Regions from separate parts of the Homo sapiens genome. Here region 2 is linked to region 1. The links come from fine-mapping of genetic effects on gene expression. A gene starts in region 1. The other region holds a variant in brackets. All regions are shown on one strand. Distances are between the middles of the regions.

The links. PIP is the estimated chance that this variant, and not a neighbour inherited with it, causes the effect. A credible set is the group of variants that fine-mapping cannot tell apart.
Region 2: its variant is the best candidate, but not a certain one, in a credible set for the expression of DUSP16 in memory regulatory T cells (Schmiedel 2018, PIP 0.67).

What each region holds. Positions count from the first base shown.
Region 1 is chr12:12,560,735-12,565,996 of GRCh38, forward strand. It overlaps DUSP16 (dual specificity phosphatase 16), which reads right to left and starts at 2,129. Exons shown (of 7, transcript NM_030640.3): 1 at 1,383-2,129. RefSeq lists an enhancer at 59-118 and silencers at 1,029-1,228, 1,249-1,368, 1,399-1,478, 1,929-2,438.
Region 2 is chr12:12,397,923-12,403,414 of GRCh38, forward strand. All of the region lies in intron 2 of BORCS5 (BLOC-1 related complex subunit 5), which reads left to right. Among named protein-coding and RNA genes, the nearest start is that of BORCS5, 44 kb to the left of the region's middle. The variant G/GA (reference allele first, on the strand shown) is at 2,667.

The DNA.
Region 1 (5,262 bases):
TGGTACGAAATCTTTTCTTTTAAAATTTTACCTTAACTTTAAAAAGCCCTTTTCTTGATGGAGGTGAAACAGCATAAATCCTTTGAGGAAACGGTTATCCTTTACGTGGACTCTCCATCAGCCCCATAAGGTGAGTGGCATAAAGAGGCATTTTTCTGACAGTCTCAGTTCCCCAAACACTAGTCCTAAACTTTTGCATGGATGGTAAATTTCACACACACACACACACACAGAGGCGGAAAAGAAAGAAGAGAAAGAAACATACCTGGTTTATTTTCTAAACAGGTTTGATAGGTTTGGTTCACTTGAAAGAGCAGAGTATTTACTTATAATCTTTTAAAACAGAAGTGGGAGCCAGAGCGCTGGGTAAATAAAAACTTCAGAGAGTTTTAAAACCCTGCATCTTAACTCACTTCCCTTTGGTTCAAGGGGATGGCACAGCAAACCCCACGGCAAATGAGATTATGCAACAGGTTTTTTTCCTCCCCAGCTTATTCATCACAGGCTGGTTAGAGGTGTGCTTTCTCCAATCTGAGACACCCACGACTTCAAAACGCCAAGAATCCTTGCAGTTGATGTTTCCTAAACTTCTTTAGGATTTTGCAGTATCCATTCATTTTCAGATCTACTTGCCTTTTCTCTGGTTCATTATTGGTATTCTTTAGGAAATAAACCCAGCATCTGAAAATATTTCCCTCTGTGGTGTTTCATTACATGAAACTACACGTGATACACAGACCCTGGGCTTTTTTATTTCTCACGTTTTGCAGCTAGTGTAAATAAAGAAGTCACTAGGCGTCGGGCCCCCCAACGCCAAGACCCGAGCCCCTGTCCGAAAATTGAGGGCTTTTTCGGTTGGTTGGTTGAAGAAAGCAGCACCGTCACCACCCAGGTGGCCTCGCTGCTTACACCAAAGGCGAACTGGGGATAATGGGAACAGTCAGGCCAGGGCCCCACTTGGCAGGCGTGTTGTGTAACAGTCGCGCCTGGAAGTGAGCAGCTTCGCCCGCAAAGGTGCCGCGTCCCGCGGCGGCCGCTCCTCTCGGCGGGGCCCGGTCCAAGCGCCGCGCAGCGGCCGGGAGCGCACCCACTGCGACCCCGCGCCCGGCCGCACGCCCCCTTCCCGCTCCGGCCAGCCTCCGGCCAGGCCTACACCCCCGCTTCAAACGCTCCTGCGGCCCCCGGCCGCGGTCGCCCCCACGCCGCCTCCCGAAAGGGTGGCCGGTACGCCCGGGAAGGCAGAGACGGCGGGGCTGGAGCGCGGCGCCCGGCACCGGGAGTCGGGGCGCGCTGCGGAGCGTCCATGCGGCCGGGCGGGAGGGCGCCCCGGGCCCCGCACCCTCCCGCCCGCACACCCCGCGCGGCCCGCCAAGGCCACTTACTTTTGGGGCCGCCGACCTCCCAATTCCCTCAGAGGGAAACGAAAGTTGTCACGGCGTCTCCCCTCGGGCCCCCCTCGCCTCCCGGACTTGCGAGGCGCCGCCGCGGAGCCGAGAGGGCGGCTGCGCTCCCGCTCGCGTCCCGTCCCGTCGCTCTCCTCCTCCTCTTCTTTTCAGTATATTATCTTCTCCTTCTCTGAGGGGTGGGTTGGGGCGGGAGGCTTAGGAAGAGAGGAGACGCTCGCAACTTTTCTTCACTCTTTCTCTTCCACCCTCCCCCCCATCAGCCTTCAAAAAAAATGTCGAAAGAGATGAAGAACTTAGGGAGGTAAAGGTGGGGGGCCGCGTTGTGAAAGTGGGGGTTGGGGGGGAGAGAGAGGTGGTAATAATCGTTTAAAAACTGATTAAAGCCCCCCAAACACTGATACATAGAAAGAGGGGGAAAGGCGGGGGGGTGGGGTGGGGGGTTGGGGGAAAGAGAAAGAGTCGCTGGTCAGGAAACTTCAAGCGCGGATGAGGTCATTGGTTTAAAAATAAAGAGATGGCGTCACTTGAAACCAATCCCAGTGAATGAACTCAGCGGAGCCCCGGGGAAAGGAGGAGACAGGCGAGGGCAGGGCGGTGGGCGCCGGGCGGGGCCGCGCGCTCGCCCATCCCGCGGCCGCCCGAGCCCGGAGCGCGGCTCCGCGCCTCGTTCCGGCCGCTCGGGGAGGGGTCAGGTCATGTTCCCTTCCAGAGTCCGGCGACTCTGAGGCAGGTTCCGCGGGCGCCGCTGGGAGGAGCCGGAGCTGCCGGAGGAGGCGGCCCCGCGGCCTCCTCCCCCACCTCTCCCTCCTCCTCCTCCTCCTCCCGCGCCCGCGCGCCCGCCCCCTACCCCCGGGCTCGCGGCCCCGACCCCCGGGCCGGGGTGTCCGCCTCCAGTGCTGCGCCCCAACAGGTATCGGAGGGTTTTCTCCCTCACCCAGACGCAGAACCTTTCCCTCCTCCTTGAGCTGTTTCCAGCTGCCTCACCAACGTCAAAAAACGCAAACACTGATTTGAGAGAATTACACTCGCTCTGTAAAAAGTCTGGCGAATGCAAAAGGCAAGGCTCTGCCATCTCTCAGGAGAGAAGTTACAGGTACTTCAAGAAAAATCACACTACTGTTGTCAGGCATTCAGCTATCTATATGTTTATGGTTGAAAGCCCCCACATAAATGTTCCTACATTACTTTACTTTGCTTATATTTACAAATACAAGGATAAGCAGCCTACATTTTCTTTAAAAATGTTTTCTACAGGAGGCAGCGCAGAAACATCTTTAAATAAGACCAGGGGTTAACCGCCTCTTGAGAGGTACAAAACCCTTGTTGATTTAACTCCACATACCTCGTGCATTTTATTATTTGAATTCATTAAAATGTCTGTTTTGAGATGACATTATGCACTTTGGAAAACGAGAGACCTGAGGTGGTGACAAACCAGGACTTGGAATCACTGAATAGGACAATCGGAGCTTTATTCCAATGTTCTTTGAGCATTTGAGCATGAAGCTGCTTCTACTGAGAAGTACTCACGTGGATATCACATAACAAAGATGTGATTAATGACGGAAAAGCACCCTGCGAGTGGACTGCTCCATGAGCCAGAATTTATGTGTAGGAATAATCTAACTCTTCAAATATTCCATTTACAATGTGCCGGATTGGGACACTAGACCCTAAAGGCACTGTTTGCTGTGGGATATCCATGTGCACCCTGCCTAAAGCACGTTTTTCCACTAGCAAAAGAACTGATAAGCAGGTTTGGGTGGGTTCGAAAGATAATACACCCCTGTTACTACTTTTCTGCCTTTAAGTCCTGCAACTAAAGGCATTCCTTATGATTGGTAATCATTGAAGGTTAGTGTTGCGGGGTATGGCCCTGGGAACTTCTGGCCCATCTTTTATAGGAGGGAAAAAAAAAGCCCATTTGAAGATGGGAGGCACCCTAGCACCTCTGGCAGTAGTAGGTAAAGCCTGAAGGCCACAGATGGAGAAGCAACTTTGAGCCTGTGCCTCTGGCCTCTTGAAGACTTTGCTAGGGGAAGCAAATCTCTCCCACTGCTCCCTGTCCTCTGGTGGCCAGGAGGTGTTACTGCAGCTTCCTTGGGATTATTTGTGCTCTACCAGGAAACCCCTAAAAATCTAACTGTAGACCTTTGTTGGAGGTGTTGGGATTTTTAGGAAGGAAGAAGAAGATAGTCCTTTTACTAGTGGTACAGAGCATGGATCTTGCCTGGAGGAAAGATTCATGAGAATTAATGGTATCCCCTTTGCATGCCAAAGTTCCAGTAACCTTGCTTTAACTGACATGGCTTGAAACGTTTCTCCCCTTTCCTCAGTTACACAATTAAGTTTGTGTAATGTATGATGTGGTGCCATCATAGCTATCATAGAAGTCTCTCAGGGTATTTCATCTATTTCTGGAAACAAGACGTATATTAAAGCTCATTAAAAACGAAATCAATGATTGAGTGATGTACAATATTGGTTAAAAGAGTCAGGGGGCCGGGCGTGGTGGCTTAAGCCTATAATCCCAGCACTTTGGGAGGCCCGAGGCGGGTGGATCATGAGGTCAAGAGATCGAGACCATCCTGGCCAACATGGTGAAACCCCGTCTCTACTAAAAATACAAAAATTAGCCAGGCGTGGTGGTGGGCGCCTGTAGTCCCAGCTACTCAGGAGGCTGAGGCAGAAGAATCACTTGAACCCGGGAGGTGGAGGTTGCAATGAGCCGAGATCGCACCACTGCACTCCAGACTCCAGCCTGGCAACAGAGTGAGACTCCATCTCAAAAAAAAAAAAAAAAACAAACAAACAAAAAAAAACATCAGGGGAGAAAAGGAGCAATGTAGGCTGGGATTATCAGGGAAGGCACCTTATAAAGAGTTTTGACCTTATCCTTGAAGGACAGTTCAGATTTAGTTTGCAGTGAAGAAGCCAGTGGAGGGAAGATTCCAGAGGGCAAATGGCAATGAGCCAAGACATGGAGGTGGAATGAATAATGAGTAAGGTGTATTCAAGTGACAGAAGAGTAAACCCAGTAGCAGTAGAAATCGGTATTTAGCAATTAGGTATGAGGTTAAATTTAAGAGATACAGAGGCACATTGTGGAGGTACTTGAATGTTAGAATAAATAGATTGTTACCTGCCCAGCAGGTGAAGGGGAAACCACTAAACAAGTTTACTTCACCGAAGAGTACATTTCTTTCTTTTACTAAGAAAGGTTTTCTACATACTAACAATAAATATGTGGAAACAGCCCTCTCCCTCTCCCGCTCCCGCTCCCGCTCCCTCTCTTTCCACGATCTCCCTCTGATGCCGAGCCGAAGCTGGACTATACTGCTGCCATCTCGGCTCACTGCAACCTCCCTGCCTGATTCTCCTGCCTTAGCCTGCTGAGTGCCTGCGATTGCAGGCACGCACCGCCACGCCTGACTGGTTTTCGTATTTTTTTGGTGGAGACGGGGTTTCGCTGTGTTGGCCGGGCTGGTCTCCAGCTCCTAACCGTGAGTGATCCGCCAGCCTCGGCCTCCTGAGGTGCCGGGATTGCAGACTGAGTCTGGTTCACTCAGTGCTCAATGGTGCCCAGGCTGGAGTGCAGTGGCGTGATCTCGGCTCGCTACAACCTCCACCTCCCAGCCGCCTGCCTTGGCCTCCCAAAGTGCTGAGAGTGCAGCCTCTGCCCGGCCGCCACCCCATCTGGGAAGTGAGGAGCGTCTCTGCCTGGCTGCCCATCGTCTGGGACGTGAGGAGCCCCTCTGCCTGGCTGCCCCATCTGGAAGTGAGGAGCGTCTCTGCCCGGCCGCCATCCCATCTAGGAAGTGAGGAGCGCCTCTTCCCGGCTGCCATCCCATCTAGG
Region 2 (5,492 bases), 160 kb before region 1:
GCTGTTTCTTGTTACCGAAAGCAGAGAGAGCTTTTTCAGGGAGGTTAAAATTATCGTTATCTTGTTATAGTGTTATTTTTTCCTTCTTAGTAAGTTAGGAGCAATGCTTTGTCTTCCTGAAGCTGTCTGAAAAGATGCTTGTATACATGTGTATAGCGCTTTGGGTCATAGAAATTAGGTGTTATGTCATCTGTTTCAGAAGATGCACTAATGCATCAAAAACAAGTGACAGGGAAAACAATGCAGTGAGTAATCTTGTTGCCTCAAAACTGAGCAAACGTTTTGGGAGAGCAAGTTCTTGCGGGACATCACTAAATAAGAATGAGTTGATGTCACACTTGGCAAGAAGCAACTCTTTAAAATTTTTTTTTTCCATACAAATAGTACAACATGACTGGGAGGAGGGATTGTGGGCAAAGGGTAAAGAATTATGGAGGGAAAATGAGCAGGAGAAGGAATGTGAGAATGAGCTGCTTGCTACAAAAATAATTAATATGTAATCAAAGCCATGTTTGTTTTGTCAGGAAAAATCTGAGTCAGAACATGAGCTGATGAAGGGGAGAGATGTTTACCATGTCCTCCCCCACACCCTCAGAGGGCCGTTGTGTGCAGATCCCTGCGGAGGGTTGTGTAACCATCTTGACTCATTTTCAGGGAAGAATGGCCCCTGTAGCTCTTTTGGCTCAATATAATGCTGCATCAAGGATGAGTGAAGAAGTCTCTGGAATACAGTGCTATCAAACTCAAAATATGGTCATTTTAATGAGAATTTCCAAACACTAGGAGGCAATACTGTGCAGACCTTGTGCCACCACCTGCCTCCCCCTTCCCAGATATCTGTGCGATATTGGGAATTCAGGCAGCCCAATCGATAGCTGATTTTACCTTTTCCTACAAGGCAGAAAATGTCAAGATTAGCCAACTATTTATTGAAATTAGTTGGAGTTATCTGGCTACATGAGTGTCTGTGGTCCAGTGTATCATAATAAGAGTGGGAGAGACGGTTGGGGTGCTACTGGCATCTTGGGTGGGCCAGCCTTTATTGTGTGTCACTGCCGTGTATTGGCAATTTTTGTCCCTGCCCACTGAATTGCCAGTGGTGCCCCAGTCTCTGCGATGGCCAGGAGAGGCCTTCCTTCTTCCAGATTACCTCTGTGTGTTTCAGGGGGGCTAAAACAGTATGTGTTTTACAGTATTACTAAGCAGCACAGTTTTCTTTGTTGTTCCTTAGCATAAAGATCTTGGAAAGTTTTAAGAAGTTGTGTGTTTATACTGTAGCATAGGTTTCATTCAACCTATCACTCCTATTCACTCCTCAGAGTGAATTTCAGGGAAAAACAACAGTATTGGGGGAAAAAGTTTGGAAAAATTGGATGGAGGGAAGGAAAAAAAAAGGTGAATTGCAAAAGGGTTTCTTACGTAGCCCACTATTGTTCCCCAAATCAACACTCACTCTCCAGCTCTTTGGGTGGTTGCTCTGCATTTTCAAGAGGCAGCCTGGGGTGGAGGTCAGGGTTGCAGGTAAGGTAGAGGGGAAATAAGAGAGGACAGGGAAGAGGCAGGCATGAATAAAAGATTTGGATTGGAATATAAAGATGGAATACAATGGAGATAATGAAAGACCATAACAAAGAAACAGGAGATTTTACATGGCATTGTTAAGCTTACAATGTTGGCATTTTGGGGACAATTCTGAGTACCACAGATCTAGAACTTCTAAAAGAAAAACCCTCTGAGATAATTACAGCAGTTAAAGACCTTCACATACATGTTGAATTAATAGTATTTAATGTCCCTTTGTAGGTTTCAATCTTTTAAGCCTGTCCTGCCAAAGACTGTGTCCTTCTAGGTGCTTAGCCAGTAATTTAGGTGTACTGTCACCAGTTGTTTCCGTCATGACTTCTAAGTCTCAGCAGCCATTTTCCCTTAGGTTTTATTAACTGAGTCAGTAACTCAAAGTGTCATTGTTTTCCACTCATCTGGACTTTCTGAAAATAACACAGTGCTTTATTGGAAAAGCTAAGCATAGACATTAGCCAAATGTTTGCTAAAAATTAACCAAATTAAATGTTATTAAATAAGATGTGCAAATAGAGGAAAATTTTGAGAAGTATGAACAAATCCCACTAATCTTTGTTGTCAGTCACTACTTAGAACCTTGGCTTCGCACCAAGGCTGAATTAAGTTGAAGAATGTTTTCCGTAATGCTTCCCCTACCTTTTAAGTTGGTTTGAAAACATTCAGTTGCATGTGTACCACTGGATTTTTAGCTTTTTCACTAGTTGTTACCCTGGCAGCCTTGATTCAGTGAAAATCTTGTTTTTATCACAGGCTATTTCTCTGAGCAGCCAATGTTTCACGCTCTCTCCCTGTCTAATTGTCTGGCCTTGGTAACTCTTAGCAAGAGTTGAAATTACCTCGGTCAACCACATGACAAAAGAGTGGGCATGGGTTTTCCTGAATGTCTCCTGAGGTGACCAAGGGTGGAGTGGTGGTAGCATAATAAACCCCATGGGAAGTGGAGCCATAGATTCCATCAGCTTTGCAGAGGGGCCTTAGACCCAGCAGGGTTTAAGAAACTGCTGTGGATAGGATGCCTTGTCCTCCATAGAGATTATCAGCTGCTACCTAGAATTTCTTTTTCATTTGCAGTATGTCAGCATACA[G/GA]AAAAAAAAAAAAAAATAGCAAACACCTGTGTATTCATCAAATTTGTCATATTTTAATATTTTGCCATGTTTGCTTCAGATCTCTTTCCCTGCAGGAAGAAAAATACACGTTTCAAATAAACAACGCCCCCTCCCCATCCTTTATATCCTTCCCTGATATTCCCTCCTCCTCCCACTCCACAGGGAATTATTGATCTGATTTTGGCATTCATCATGCCCATGTGTTTTCTTCGTGGCTTGTCTTTTTCCTACATGTTTTTGTATATCTAAGCGGTGTAGAATATTCTTTCACTTGTTTTGACTTTATATAAGTTGTGTTCTATATGTATCCTTCAGCTACTTGTGTAACTTTCTTTTTTCTTTTCCTTATAATTTTGAGATTTATCCATGTTGATATATGTCTCACTTATTTTCACTGCTGCGTAGTATTCCATCAAATGAATATTTCACAGTGTATCCATTGACTTATTAGTGAATATTTGAGTTGTTTCCAGTTGTTTTACTATTAAACAGTTTTGCAGTGGACATCTTTGTACATGTCTCCTTTTGCACATGTATGAGAGTTTTCTCTAGGGTATGTAACTAGGAACAAATTGCTGTCTAGTAGGGCACATGTATTTTCAGCTTTACTAGATACAGTCAATTTACTCTTCAAAGTAGTTATGCTCTTTTATCGCCTTACTAGCTATATATTAGAGTTCCTGTTGTTCCACATCCTCAGTAAAACCGGATATTGTCCCAGCTGTTCCTTGCTTATTGATTAATTTAAAGACAACATCGTGCTTAGCAACCATCTCAAACATAGGGTCAGATGCAAACTTAATTTTCTTATACCATGCTTCTTCCTTTTAAAAGAATTGTTTTGATTTCTGAGTTACAAATCCAAGATAACTATAACATAGCTTTTTTGCCATATTTATTTTTTTAATAATTTTTTTTCTGATCACGAAATGAATATATGATTATTTTAAGGAACTTGGAAAACAAAATGACAAAAAAGAAAATTAAAAATTCTACCTAGACATAGCCATTGTTAATAACTTGCTATATTTTTCCTTCTAGTGTAGACCTATGTAAAGTATACATTTACTTTATAATTAAAATTTGTCATTTTATATCACAATTTTACTTAAAATTCTATTGTGGCATTTCCCATGTCATTGGATATTGTTTGAAAACATCATCTAAGGCCAGGAGCGGTGGTTCACGCCTGTAATCCCAGCACTTTGGGAGGCCAAGGCGGGCGGATCACGAGGTCAGAAGATCGAGACCATCCTGGTTAACATGGTGAAACCCTGTCTCTACTAAAAAAAAAAAATACAAAAAAATTAGCTGGGCTTGGTGGTGGGCGCCTGTAGTCCCAGCTACTCAGGAGGCTGAGGCAGGAGAATGGCGTGAACCCGGGAGGCGGAGCTTGCAGTGAGCCAAGATGGCGCCACTGCACTTCAGCCTGGGCTACAGAGCGAGACTCCGTCTCAAAAAAAAAAAAAAAAAAAGTGTAAACAGCTGGATAACATTTCTTTTTGTAAATATAAATATAGTTTAATCATTCTCCCATTGGAGGACATTTTGGGTATTAAAATGATACTGGAGTACAAAATCTTGGTGCATAAATTTCATCTGAGTTTGTTTCTTTGGGATAGATTTCTAGAAGCCAGTAACTATTCATGGAATTAGATTGGATAGCTGATAAAAGCAGGGCATCAAGGGAGAAAAAAGAGTTGAGAGAGCAAAACAACATGCTTAAGGATCATGAGATTCGTGAATTCAGCTTCTGTCATATTTGAATTGAGTGGCAAATTTGTCTCTTACCTGAATTTGGAGACCCTTCTCTAATTAGGGATGATTATTAGAGGGAAATTCTGCCCTACTGTGGACACCAGAGAGTTGGTTGTGTGTTGTAGTGTTCAAGAGTTTTATCCAATATTCTGCTTCCTGCAGAGTTCCTGAATTGAGGGTCTTTTGTGGAATATCTCATTGAAGTAGACTTTTAACCTTGACTTGCTCAACATCTGATCAGAAGCAGCTCGTTGTCATATAAGGAAATCTGCTCTGTTATGGAACATCTTTGAGTAGTTGAGTTCCCCTTTTTCCCATAAGTCCAAATTTGATTCCCTGTCACCTTCAATTGTTCTTTAACTTGTTTTTAAACAAAAGTCTCCCTAAAAATAATTCCAGAAGTATTTGAACTTTATTTCTCTATTAGCTTCTACTGTAATTAACATGAAAACAAACATGTTTTAAAGTCTTTGTTTCCTTCTAAGGTATAATTTAGCTTTATCACGTCTTCATAGTGAAAGTTGTATACGTGAACGTTGGTAGGATAGAAAAACTTTCCACATAGTTTTATACTTGGTGCCCAGAAAACTTCCAAAGTGTTTAGGTACTACTCATTATTATTTCTTAGAAATTGAATAGAAGCAGTGGCTTGAGTATACACAGTCCCACTTTTTCGTTAATAATAACCACATTTCCCTTTTTTTTTTTGCACAAAAGTGTTACATGTATTTTCTCGTTTAATCCTTGTACAACCTATTAGGGTAGGTATTTTCCTCATTTGGCAGATGAGGGTGCTGAGGCTCAGAGAGATGAAAGACCTTTCCTGTCACACAGCTATTAAGGGCAGAGCTAGGATTTAAACTCAGATCTAATTCTAAAACCTGTATATTTAACTAGTTTGCACATCTGTCTCCCTGACTTAATTGCATCATAAAATCAAAGATATTTCTCTTCAAAATATGTTCATGTTGGATTATTTGGCTGTTTCACTGTTAGAGGTCTGTTGCTTCTGCTGGCTTTTCTGTGGCAATCCCAGCTGCTCTTCCC